Homo sapiens: one gene and its partners. The protein of the gene in region 2 interacts with the protein of the main gene of each other region in a pairwise test. Each region holds a gene or a part of one and is shown on either strand. Other genes may lie near its edges. The genes, in order: MAPKAPK5, LSR and RARG.

Region 1 (3,648 bases), on a different chromosome or scaffold from region 2:
CAGAGGTAGAAGAGGTGAAGGGCATGGAAAGGAAGGCAGGAGAGGCAGGCACATCTGGTGTAACATTACAAAAATACATCCTCATTTCTGTCTGACTTTTTTGCTTTTCCATTTCTCTAAAAACATTTCTATACAATACTAATCCTTCTTCCACCATTTGCTTTCACTTCAGTGCCAGTATCACAGAAGGTTCCATTCCATATTCCATAAACAAAGCTAAAGGAAGTCTTGAATAATTGGAACCCTTCTGGCAAATTGTCTAATGTCAATTTTTTCCTGCCCCTGTTTCTTGTACATCTTATTCCTTACTGTCTGGCACAGAAGCACTCATCTCCATCAAGTCATCTTCTATTAATTCCTCAGGTGTGGTGTCTATTAGCTCTTGAATTTCTCCAAGATCTGTACCTTAAAACTCTTCACCCTTCACCTTTTTTGCCATATCCACAATCTCTTTCATGATTTCCTTAACCAGCTCTGTCATAAATCCTATGAAGTCACGCACATCTGGACAGAGTTTTCTCCACCAGGAATTTATTGTTTCAGGCCTGATGGCTTCCACAGCTTTTTCCATAACAATGGCATCTTCAGTGGTGTAATCCCTCTAGACTTTCACTACATTCTATCAGGATTCTCTTCCTTGGTGTTAACAATCTTTTCCAGAGTATCCCATGTAATGAGTCTTGAAAGTCCTGGACCAGGTGCGGCAGCTGAAGCCTGTAATCCCAGCACTTTGGGAGGCTGAGGCAGGCAGATCACTTGAGGCCAGGAGTTCGAGACCAACCTGGGCAAAATGGTGAAACCTCATCTCTCCTAAAAATACAAAAATTAGCCAGGCATTGTGGAGCATGCCTGTAATTCCAGCTTCTCGAGAGGCTGAGGCATGAGAATTGCTTGAACCTGGGAGGCAGAGGTTGAAGTGAGCTGAGATCACCCCACTGCACTCCAACCTGGACAACAGAGCCAGACTCTTTCTCAAAAAGTCCTTGAGACCTCCTGATCTACAGGCTGGATTAGAGACACTGTTTGTGGACAAGTAGACCACTTCAAAGCCTAGTGTTGAACTCATGGGATTCTCAGTGGCCAGGGGCATTGTGTCAAAAAAACTTTAAAAGGCAGTCCTGGCCGGGCACGGTGGCTCATGCCTGTAATCCCAGCACTTTGGGAGGCCGAGGCAGGCGGATCACTTGAGGTTAGGAGTTCAAGACCAGCCTGGCCAACATGCTGAAACCCTGTCTCTACTAAAATACAAAAATTAGCTGGGCGTGGTGGCAGGCAACTATAATCCCAGCTACTCGGGAGGCTGAGGCAGGAGAATGGTGTGAACCCAGGAGGCAGAGCTTGCAGTGAGCCGCGATCGTGCCACTGCACTCCAGCCTGGGCCACAGAGCGAGACTCCTCTCAAAAAAAAAAAAAAAAAAGAAAATGGGTTCTCATTATCCAGGCTTTCTTTTGGTAAAAACAGACTGGCAGCTGGTGTTTTATCTTCTCCCTTGAAGGCTCAGAGGTTAGCAGCTTTATAGACCAGGGTAGTCCTGATCATAAACTTGACTGTGTTTACACAAAACGGCAGTTAACCTAGCTCTTCCTGCCTTAAATCCTGGCACTCACTGCTCTTCCTTACTCATAAATGTCCTTTGTGGCATTGTTTTCCCCAGAACAGGGCATTTTTGTCTGCATTAAAAACCCATTCAAGCAGATATCCTTTCTCCTCAATGATTTTCTTAATGGCATCTGGGAACTTGTTTGCCGCCTCTTGGTCAGCAGAAGCTGCTTCTCCTGTTACCCTGACATTTTTTTAAGCCAAACCTCTCTACAGTTATCAAACCATCCTTTGCTGGCATTAAATTCTCCAACTTTAGATCCTTTACCTTCCTTTTAAGACACAATGACTTTTTCTCGAAAAATATTAGAGTCTATAGTTATGCCTTTCTTATAGCACTCTCGCACCCACGTAAAAGCTGCATCTTCAATATGAAATAAAAAGGTATTTTGGCCAGGCACAGTTGCTCATGCCTGTAATCCCAGCACTTTGGGAGGCCGATGCAGGCAGATCACAAGGTCAGGAGTTCGAGACCAGCCTGGCCAACATGGTGAAACCCCGTCTCTATTAAAAAGACAAAAATTAGGCGGGCATGGTGGCACCCACCTGTAATCCCAGCTACTTGGGAGGCTAAGGCAGGAGAACTGCTTGAACCTGGGAGGCAGAGGTTGCAGTGAGCCAAGATCACGCCACTACACTCCAGCCTGGTCAACAGAGCAAGTCTCCATCTATGAAAAAAAAAAGGATATTTCACAACCAGTCGTGGTGGTTCATGCCTATAATTCTAGCACTTTGGAAGGCCAAAGTGTGACGACTGCTTGAGCTCAAGAGCTGGAGACCAGCCTGGGCTACACAGTGGGACCCGTGTCTCTACAAAAAAAAAAGTTATTTTAATTAGCCAAACATGGTGGTAGACACCTGTGGTCCCAGCTACTCAGGAGGCTGAGGAGGGAGAATCACTTAAGCCTAGAAGGACATGGCTGCAGCGAACTGTGATCGCATCACTACACTCCAGCCTGGGTGATGGAGTGAGACTGTCCTAACAAAATAAAAGAAAAAGAAAAAAATGTGCTAAACTGGACTTCATAAAATTTAAAACCTTTTGCTCTTCAAAAGACACCATTATAAAATGAAAAGATAAGCCACAGACTGGGAGAAAATATTTGCCAATCACATAGCTGATAAATGACTTTTATTCAGTTTATAAAGAACTCTAGGCCAGGTGCGGTGGCTGACGCCTGCAATCCCAGCACTTTGGGAGGCCGAGGCAGGCAGATCACAAGGTCAGGAGTTTAAGACAAGCCTGGCCAACATGGCAAAACTAAAATTTTTAGTCTCTACTAAAAATACAAAAATTAGCTAGGCATGGTGGTGGATGCCCATAATCCCAGCTACTTGGGAGGCTGAGGCAGGAGAATCACTTGAACCCGGGAGGTGGAGGTTGCAGTGAGCCAAGATCGTGCCATTGCACTCCAGCCTAGGCAACAAGAGCAGCAAGACTTTGTCTCAGAAAAAAAAAAAAGAAAGAAAAAAAAAAGAACTCTTGGCCAGGTGCAGTAATCCTAGCACTTCAGGAGGCTGAGGCAGGCAGATCGCTTGAGCCCAGGAGTTCAAGACCAGCCTGGGCAACATTGTGAGACCCCATCTCTAAAAAAATTAATAAAAAAATAAATAAATAATCCTATAACTCAATAAGGCAAAGAAATCAATTTTAGGCTGGGCATGGTGGTTCACATCTGTAATCCCAGCACTTTGGGAGGCCAAGGCAGGCGGATCACTTGAGGTCAGAAGTACGAGACCACCTGGTCAACATGGTGAAGACCTCATCTCTACTAAAAATACAAAAAATAAATAAAAAAATAAAAATACAAATACAAAAAATTAGCTGGGCATGGTGGCGCATGCCTGTAATCCCAGCTACTTAGGAGGCTGAGGCAGGAGAATCGCTTGAACCCCGGAGGAAGAGGTTGCAGTGAGCCAAGGTCGTACCACTGCATTCCAGCCTGAGTGACAAAGCGAGACTCCATCTCAAAACAAAAAAAAGCAATTCTAAAACGGGCAAAAAGAGGCCGAGCACAGTGGCTCATGCCTATAATCCTAGCATTTTG
Region 2 (3,648 bases):
CGCCAACATTTGTCAATCAAAAGGTTTTACCTAAACTTCCAACTCCCCAGCTAACTTACTGGAAGAAGTGGCCACCCATGGTCTGTGTGTTTACAGGGCAACAAAGCTGCCCTTTATATAAAGCCCAGATGCTGGGTCCACCACTGTCCCCACAAGCCGAAATCAAGTATCCTCTTTGGCAGCCAAGCCCCTGTTCTAGAAAAAATGAGTCATCTGGGAGACGTGGGTCCTGCCCACCTGGTCACCTTCCAGATTGAGATGCAGTGGCAGGAGCCTCGGGAATTAACTTGCCTGCCCCGGCCAAGCAGCAAAGTGTCTCCTCTAGTGTTTCTAACTCATGGACTGCACCCATTTCTGCCTGCCCCACCAGGCTCTAGGCTTGACAGTTCAAGGTAAGATCCTCCTCCCTTCCTTCCTCCCTAGGGCAAGAGGCTTGCAAAATTCCTGGGCCCTAGGCAAGTGGCTTCCTCCCTGGGACCCCAACAGGAAAATGGAGGAGAGAGATGGGCCCAGAGAGGGTGCCTCACCTCTGATTTGGTTTGGAAGCAGAAGACTAAGTGCACAGCCTAGAGGAAGCCCCTTCATTAGCTCAGGCAGCCTGCAACTTTATCATCAGCAGTGGGACCTGCTGCCTCCTGAAGGGTGGGCGGAGGCTGTGGCAGCAGCAGATGTAACAGGGCCTCTGCCAGGGAGTTAATGGGGCCCTGGGTTGGGGTAACAGGGTCTCCGGATGGAGGAAATGTGGTGTGGGGACAGGGGAATGTGGCATTGGGACCAGCATTTAGTCCTGGCCCTAGCTCTGGTCTTAGTGGGTTCACTGCAAACTTGGTTGCAGCCCATCTGTGAAATGGACCTAACACTTACTCACTGAGCAAAAAGCTGTCAGCTGAACACAACAAGAGGGAGGGGATGGGATGGCCTGCATAAGCCTCCAGGGAGCAGTGGAATTTTTTCAGGGAAGTGATCCTTTGAGGAACCAGGTTGCACACCACTGACTTCAATGACTATAAAATTAGCCAGCGACTTCCTTAATGCTAACAACAACCCATGAAGTCAGGACCTAACAGAAGGAAACAGGACTCAGAGAGGGAAGGCTGCTTCTCTGGGGTCACTCTGTGTGCACCAGGGCTCTGACTGGTGCCCTGTCCCTCAGTCACTACTGAGGCTGATAGTGGCAGTGCCCAGCAGCTGACAGACGTAGAATATTTTATATAGGTTGGGCCCCATGCTCAATGGTGTGCACATGAGCTCGCCAAATCCCCAGATGCACCCAGTGTGGTGAGCTCTGCCATAAGCCCCATTTTATAGGGGATGACACTGAGCCCTAGGGAGGGAAACTGCTCACTGGGCTTCTGAGCAGGAAGGTGTCAAGCAGGCCTCAGCTCTCCACCTGCCCATGCTTGCAAGGATTGCCTGGCACTTCACTGTTCATGTATCTTGGACTGTGTGCACACAGGCTGGTCTACCCAGACACCCTCCTGAAGGAAACCAAGGACTGGCAACAGCTGTGGTCCCCGAGGAGGGGAAACGGGACAGCAGCTAGAGGGATGCTGAAGTGTCCATCAGTGCCACTTAGTGTACACACTGTGGTCTGGTGTCCCAAGGCTGATGGCTGTGACCACGTCAATCAGCTCCTCTGTGAAAGTGTCCCGTTGGGATATTCACAAACATTCACAGAAGAGAGACAGGAGCAAGTCTTTTTCAATTGCACATGTCTGACTCCTCTCATAGAGTTAGGTCCCTCTCTCTCTGTCTTCTGTCTTCTCTTACCTTCCCCTGCTTGGTTTGCTTACTTCCCCTTTAGCTCTCATCTCACATCCAGTCCCAGCTCTCCACAGTAGCCATGCTGGTGTGCTAGATACGACCCTAGACATAGTAGCTGGGTAAAATGTGCAGCATTCCTGTGGGTATGTGTTTTCAAACATTTGCTTAAATTTGGCCAGGCATGGTGGCTCACACCTGTAGTCCTAACACTTTGGGAGGCCAAGGTAGGGGTGCGGGGGAGCGGACTGCCTGAGGTCAGGAGTTCGAGACCAGCCTGGCCAACATGGCAAAACCCCGTCTCTACTAAAAATACAAAAATTAGTCAGGCGTGGTGGCAGGCGCCTATATCCCAGCTACTCGGGAGGCTGAGGCAGGAGAATAGCTTAAACCCGGGGGGCGGAGGTTGCAGTGAGCAGAGATCACGCCACTTTACTCCAGCCTGGGCGACAGAGTGAAACTGTCTCCAAAAAAAAAAAAAAATTTGCTTAAGTTTAAGGCCAGGTGTGGTAGTTCATGCCTGTAATCCCATCACTTTGGGAGCCTGAGGCAGGATCACTTGAGGTCAAGAGTTCAAGACCAGCCTGGGCAACATAGCAAGACCCTGTCTCTACAGAAAATTTTTAAAAATTGGCCAGCATGGTGGCACATGCCTGTAATCCCAGCACTTTGGGGAGGCTGACTTGGGAGGATCACCTGAGGCCAGGAGTTTGAGATCAGGCTGGGCAACATACTGAGACCCCGTCTCTACAAAAAACAAAAATCAAAAAATTAGCTGGGCATGGTGGTGTGTGCCTACAGTCCCAGCTGCTCCAGAGGCTGAGGCGGGAGGACTGCTTGAACCCGGGAGTTTGAGGCTGCAGAGAGCTATGATCGCACTGCACTGCCTGGATGACAGAATGAGACCCTTTCTCTAAAACAAAAAAAATTTTTTTTGCTTAAATCATGTAGTGTTGTAAACCTTGTTTGGTTTCTTAACTTTTTCACTTAACATTTTTTTTTCTTTTTTTTTTGAGACAGAGTCTCACTCTGTCGCCCAGGCTGGAGTGCAGTGGCGTGATCTCAGCTCACTGCAACCTCCACTTCTTGGGTTTAAGCGATTCTCATGCCTCAGTCTCCTGAGTAGCTGGGATTACAGGCGATCACCACCATGCCCAGCTAATTTTTGTATTTTTAGTAGAGAACTGGGTTTTACCATGTTGGCCAGGCTGATCTGGAACTCCTGACCTCAAGTGATCCACTCGTCTTGGCCTCCCAAAGTGCTGGGATTACAGGCGTAATCACTGCGCCTAGCCAAGATTTGGTTTTTTTAGAGGGCTTTACTTCCATGTGACTAGTATCTTGTACTGTTGGACATTTTTACCATGTGTATGGATTATACTTACAAAAGAAAAGAACAACATAAATAAAAATAAACTAAAAGTTGGAGGAAGTAAACGACAATCTAAACAGCAGACCCTCCTCAGCCTACTTTCTCCCCACTGGCTAAATTCACACCCTCCAGACCAACGCCACTGTCCTGGGGGCAGGTGGATGGCCACCTCCTTCCCTTGGATGCAGGATGTTGCCCAAACCAGGGTGGCCATGAGCGGGACACTTACGGGCCTCGGGGCAGCAGCACTTGTCTGGGCAGCAGGGGCACCTGACGTAGCAGCAGCAAGTGTGCGGGCAGCACTGGCACCAGCAGATGCCCAGGAGGAGGAAGATGAGGAAGGCAGCCAGGCATACCACAACCACGAAGAGCCAGTCTGCAGAAAGACAACAGGCCCTGAGCCCGGAGGCCTGGGAGGGAACAGGGCTAACGGCACAGCAGGGGTACATGGTGCGGAGCCAGCACTGAGGTCGGGGACGATTTGCAAAGCTCACCAAGGAACCTGCAGCCCTGGC
Region 3 (3,648 bases), on a different chromosome or scaffold from region 2:
ACTGAGAGCTATACATCCTAGAAGCAAATACTGATGGAAAGAAAGGCAGATATACCCATCCCCTACCTCTGGGCCTGCCCACCCCATGGTCTCTCTGCATTTTAGTCTCTTGGCCCTTCTCTGCCCTTCATAGCAGTCTGTTATGGCTCTGACTGGTGGAGATACCCAGGCTGGGGTGACTTTTCCTCCCTAGCCCACTAACTGCCTAGAGAGGTGAGAAGTTCTGGGGCTCCTAGGAAAGCCAAACTTTTCCTTTGTCAGGGGATGAAGATAGGAACCACCTACTTAGCACTAGGATTCCCATCTCCTCTCTCTACCTCCTTCTCCTCCCCTTCCCCTGGGCTCAGGTTTAAACTCTTAGAGGGAAGCCTACTTTTGGGGGAGGAGAGGTTGCAGGGAGAACTTCCTAGAAACAGGGAGCCCAGGGATAAGAAAGAAAAGGAGGCAGAATGCCCGGGCGTGTCGCTCACGCCTGTAATCCCAGCACTTTGAGAGGCCAAGGTGGGCGGATCATCTGAGGTTGGGAGTTCGAGACCAGCCTGACCAACCTGGAGAAACCCCATCTCTACTAAAAATATAAACATTAGCTGTCTCAACAAAACAAAACAAAAAAAGAGAGAGAGAGAGAGAAAAAAGGAGGCAGAGAAGTAAAGTCAGCTGACCAAGAAGCAGCTCCTTGGCATCATACACTTGGCACAAGTGGGGGCTCCATCAACATCCTTAGATTTGAAGCAGTGGGTACAAGAGGGCTTACAGGGTGAGGAAAAATTGGAGACAGGAAGAATTGGGAGAGGAAACTGGAAGAGGGAGTGTTGAGGAAAACAGAGAGGGAAGTGCTTACTGAAGCAGAGTATGGAGGAAAATAAGGTACAAAGAGAACTAATATGAGACATTTACATCACATTTCCTATGTGCCCTACATTATGCCAGACACTTGACATTGGTTAATTTATTTAGTCCTCACAATAACCATATGAGGTAGGCCCTATTATTAGTCCCAAGTGACGCATGAAGAAACTGAGGCACAGAGAGATTAAGTGACATGCCTGAAGTCCCACAGCTAGCAAGTGGTGGGGTACAGTCCAGGTAGTCTGGCTCTAGAGTCTGTCCCCCTAACCTTTGCCTTGTACTCCTCTCCAGAGAGCTGTAGGGCTCCCAGGTTATAACAGAGTTATGTTTGCCTTCTCCAGGATGGTAAAGAGTTTGAATCTGGGCTCCCCCACTTGCAGCCATGTGACCTTAAGCCAGTCACTTCACCTCAGTTTCCTCATATGTGAAATGAGAATCATAACTCCCAGTTCACAGGACTGATGTGAGGTTTAGGTCAAATGCTTAGCCCAGTTGTGGTGATTCATGATCACTTCCCAATCTAGGAGTTCTCTCCACCAGAAGTCCTTAGACCATCATTCACCTTGGGACCTCAGTTTAACCTTTCCTGGAGCTCCTCTGGAGAGTTTCTCAGAGCCTGCATAACCCCCTGCCGTGCCCTCTCTACCACACTGCAAGGGCCCTGAGCCAGGGCAGGATAAACTGTAGCAGCACAGAGGGAGAAGACTGCAACTGAGAGAGGGTCACAGGGCTTGGAACCTCAGAGTGGTCATTCTCTCATCTCTCCTTTCTCTCTCTTTCTCCCTAGGACTTTTGGAGGCCCAGTGGGCAGGCCAGGCAGGGCGGGTACGGAGCCTCCCAGGCTGGGGCAGTGGGCATGGGCAGGGGCTGTGGCTGAAGACCTCGCCCGCCCACTGCAGACCCCAGGGGACTCTCACACCGCAGCTGCCATGGCCACCAATAAGGAGCGACTCTTTGCGGCTGGTGCCCTGGGGCCTGGATCTGGCTACCCAGGGGCAGGTTTCCCCTTCGCCTTCCCAGGGGCACTCAGGGGGTCTCCGCCTTTCGAGATGCTGAGCCCTAGCTTCCGGGGCCTGGGCCAGCCTGACCTCCCCAAGGAGATGGCCTCTCTGTGTGAGTCTCAGGGATCTTGGGGAATGAAGGCAAATGTTAACAAGAAGGCATCAGGAGGGTGGATGGTAAAAGAGTTGGCACCCCAGTTAGGAAGGCAGGCAGGGGACAGGGGTTTGGCCTAATGGAGTAGTAGTGAATAATGGAGGGTGGTAGTGGTGGTGAGGAAGGAGTTTGGATGTGGACTCAATGGAAGTGTTTGCAAATGAGAGTTCTCCTGTCAAATAGGATAGGGAGGTAGCAGGCCTAAAACTTGGGGGGTGGGTATCTAAAACTGCCTCCTGGGTCAGTCAACTAGTAGAGGGGAATACCTTTGTGTGGGCAGCTGGGGGTGGGTCTGGTGCAGCGTGAATCTGCTGCTTGCTTGCAGTGGGGAGTTGGAGGGAGCCAAACTGGGAAGCAGAGGAGTCTGGGAGGCCAGTCACCTGGCTCTGTGATCAAGAGGTGAAATTGGGTTGGGTGCAGTGGCTAACGCCTGTAATCCCAGCACTTTGGGAGGCCGAGGTGGGTGGGTCACTTGAGGCCAGGAGTTCGAGACCAGCCTGGCCAACATGGTGAAACTCCCCCTCTGTTAAAAATGCAAAAATTAGCTGGGCGTAGTGGCGCACACTTGTAGTCCCAGCTACTTGGGAGGCTGAGGCACGAGAATTGCTTGAACACAGGAAGCAGAGGTTGCAGTGAGCCAAGATCTTGCCACTGCACCCCAGTCTGGGCGATAGAGTGAGAATCTGTCTAAAAAAAAAAAAAGAAAAAGGCTCACGCCTGTAATCCCAGCACTTTGGGAGGCCAAGGAGGGCAGATCACCTGAGGTCAGGAGTTCGAGACCAGCCTGACCAACATAGTGAAACCCCGTCTTTAAAATTACAAAAATTAGCCGGGTATGGTGGCGTGTGCCTGTAATCCCAGCTACTTGGGAGGCTGAGGCAGGAGAATCGCTTGAACCTGGGAGGCAGAGGTTGCGGTGAGCTGAGATCGTGCCACTGCACTCCAGCCTGGGTGACAGAGCAAGACTCCATCTCAAAAAGATAAAAAATAAAAAAAGAAACCCCATCATTACTAAAAATACAAAAATTAGTGGGCGTGGTGGCGCATGCATGTAATCCCAGCTACTCAGGAGGCTGAGGGAGGAGAAGCACTTGAACCCAGAAGCGAAGGTTGCAGTGAGCCAAGATCGCGCCACTGCACTCTAGCCTGGGCGACAGAGCAAGATTCTGTCTGAGAGAGAGAGAAAAAAAGGTGAAATTGCTTTGAATTACATGGAGGCTGCAAAAAGGGGAAAGAAATCCTGTGCCAGGTCCCCAAAGATGTGTGGGGTCAGGAGACTGTGCTTCTTGGTTCTGGGGAGGATGGAAATGACTGCAAAGGAGGTAGCTTTTGTACCATAAGTAATCCAGAGAGGCAGAGGGGGTGTTCCAGAAGCATCCTCTCCTCCAGCGATGTGGATCTGGGCTCCTCCTCTCCCTGCAGGTCTGGCATAGAGCCTGCATGCTGTGCAGATCCCTACTTGTTCCCCAGGCCTGCCCTCTTTGGGTTAAGCCTTTGAGTGCTGACAGCAGCCAAGGCTTGGGCCTCTCCTCTCCTCCTCCCTCTGGGACCCCTCTCCTCCCAGTTGGTAGTCATTCCTCCTGGCCAGGCCATTACAGGTGGGGGTTCCAAGCTGGTTAAGAGAAGGCTTCAACTGGGGCCAAG

The links.
Region 1: the proteins of LSR (region 2) and MAPKAPK5 interact in a two-hybrid assay, tested with the Homo sapiens proteins (one large-scale study listed by BioGRID and IntAct).
Region 3: the proteins of LSR (region 2) and RARG interact in a two-hybrid assay, tested with the Homo sapiens proteins (one large-scale study listed by BioGRID and IntAct).

What each region holds. Positions count from the first base shown.
Region 1 is NC_000012.12:111,848,670-111,852,317, reverse strand, and holds part of MAPKAPK5 (MAP kinase-activated protein kinase 5), read right to left. Parts: intron 1-3,648. UniProt on the Homo sapiens protein: Tumor suppressor serine/threonine-protein kinase involved in mTORC1 signaling and post-transcriptional regulation. Phosphorylates FOXO3, ERK3/MAPK6, ERK4/MAPK4, HSP27/HSPB1, p53/TP53 and RHEB.
Region 2 is NC_000019.10:35,262,407-35,266,054, reverse strand, and holds part of LSR (lipolysis-stimulated lipoprotein receptor isoform 2 precursor), read right to left. Parts: intron 3,510-3,648; coding exon 3,363-3,509; intron 1-3,362. UniProt on the Homo sapiens protein: Probable role in the clearance of triglyceride-rich lipoprotein from blood. Binds chylomicrons, LDL and VLDL in presence of free fatty acids and allows their subsequent uptake in the cells.
Region 3 is NC_000012.12:53,225,676-53,229,323, reverse strand, and holds part of RARG (retinoic acid receptor gamma), read left to right. Parts: intron 1-1,636; 5' UTR 1,637-1,778; coding exon 1,779-1,962; intron 1,963-3,648.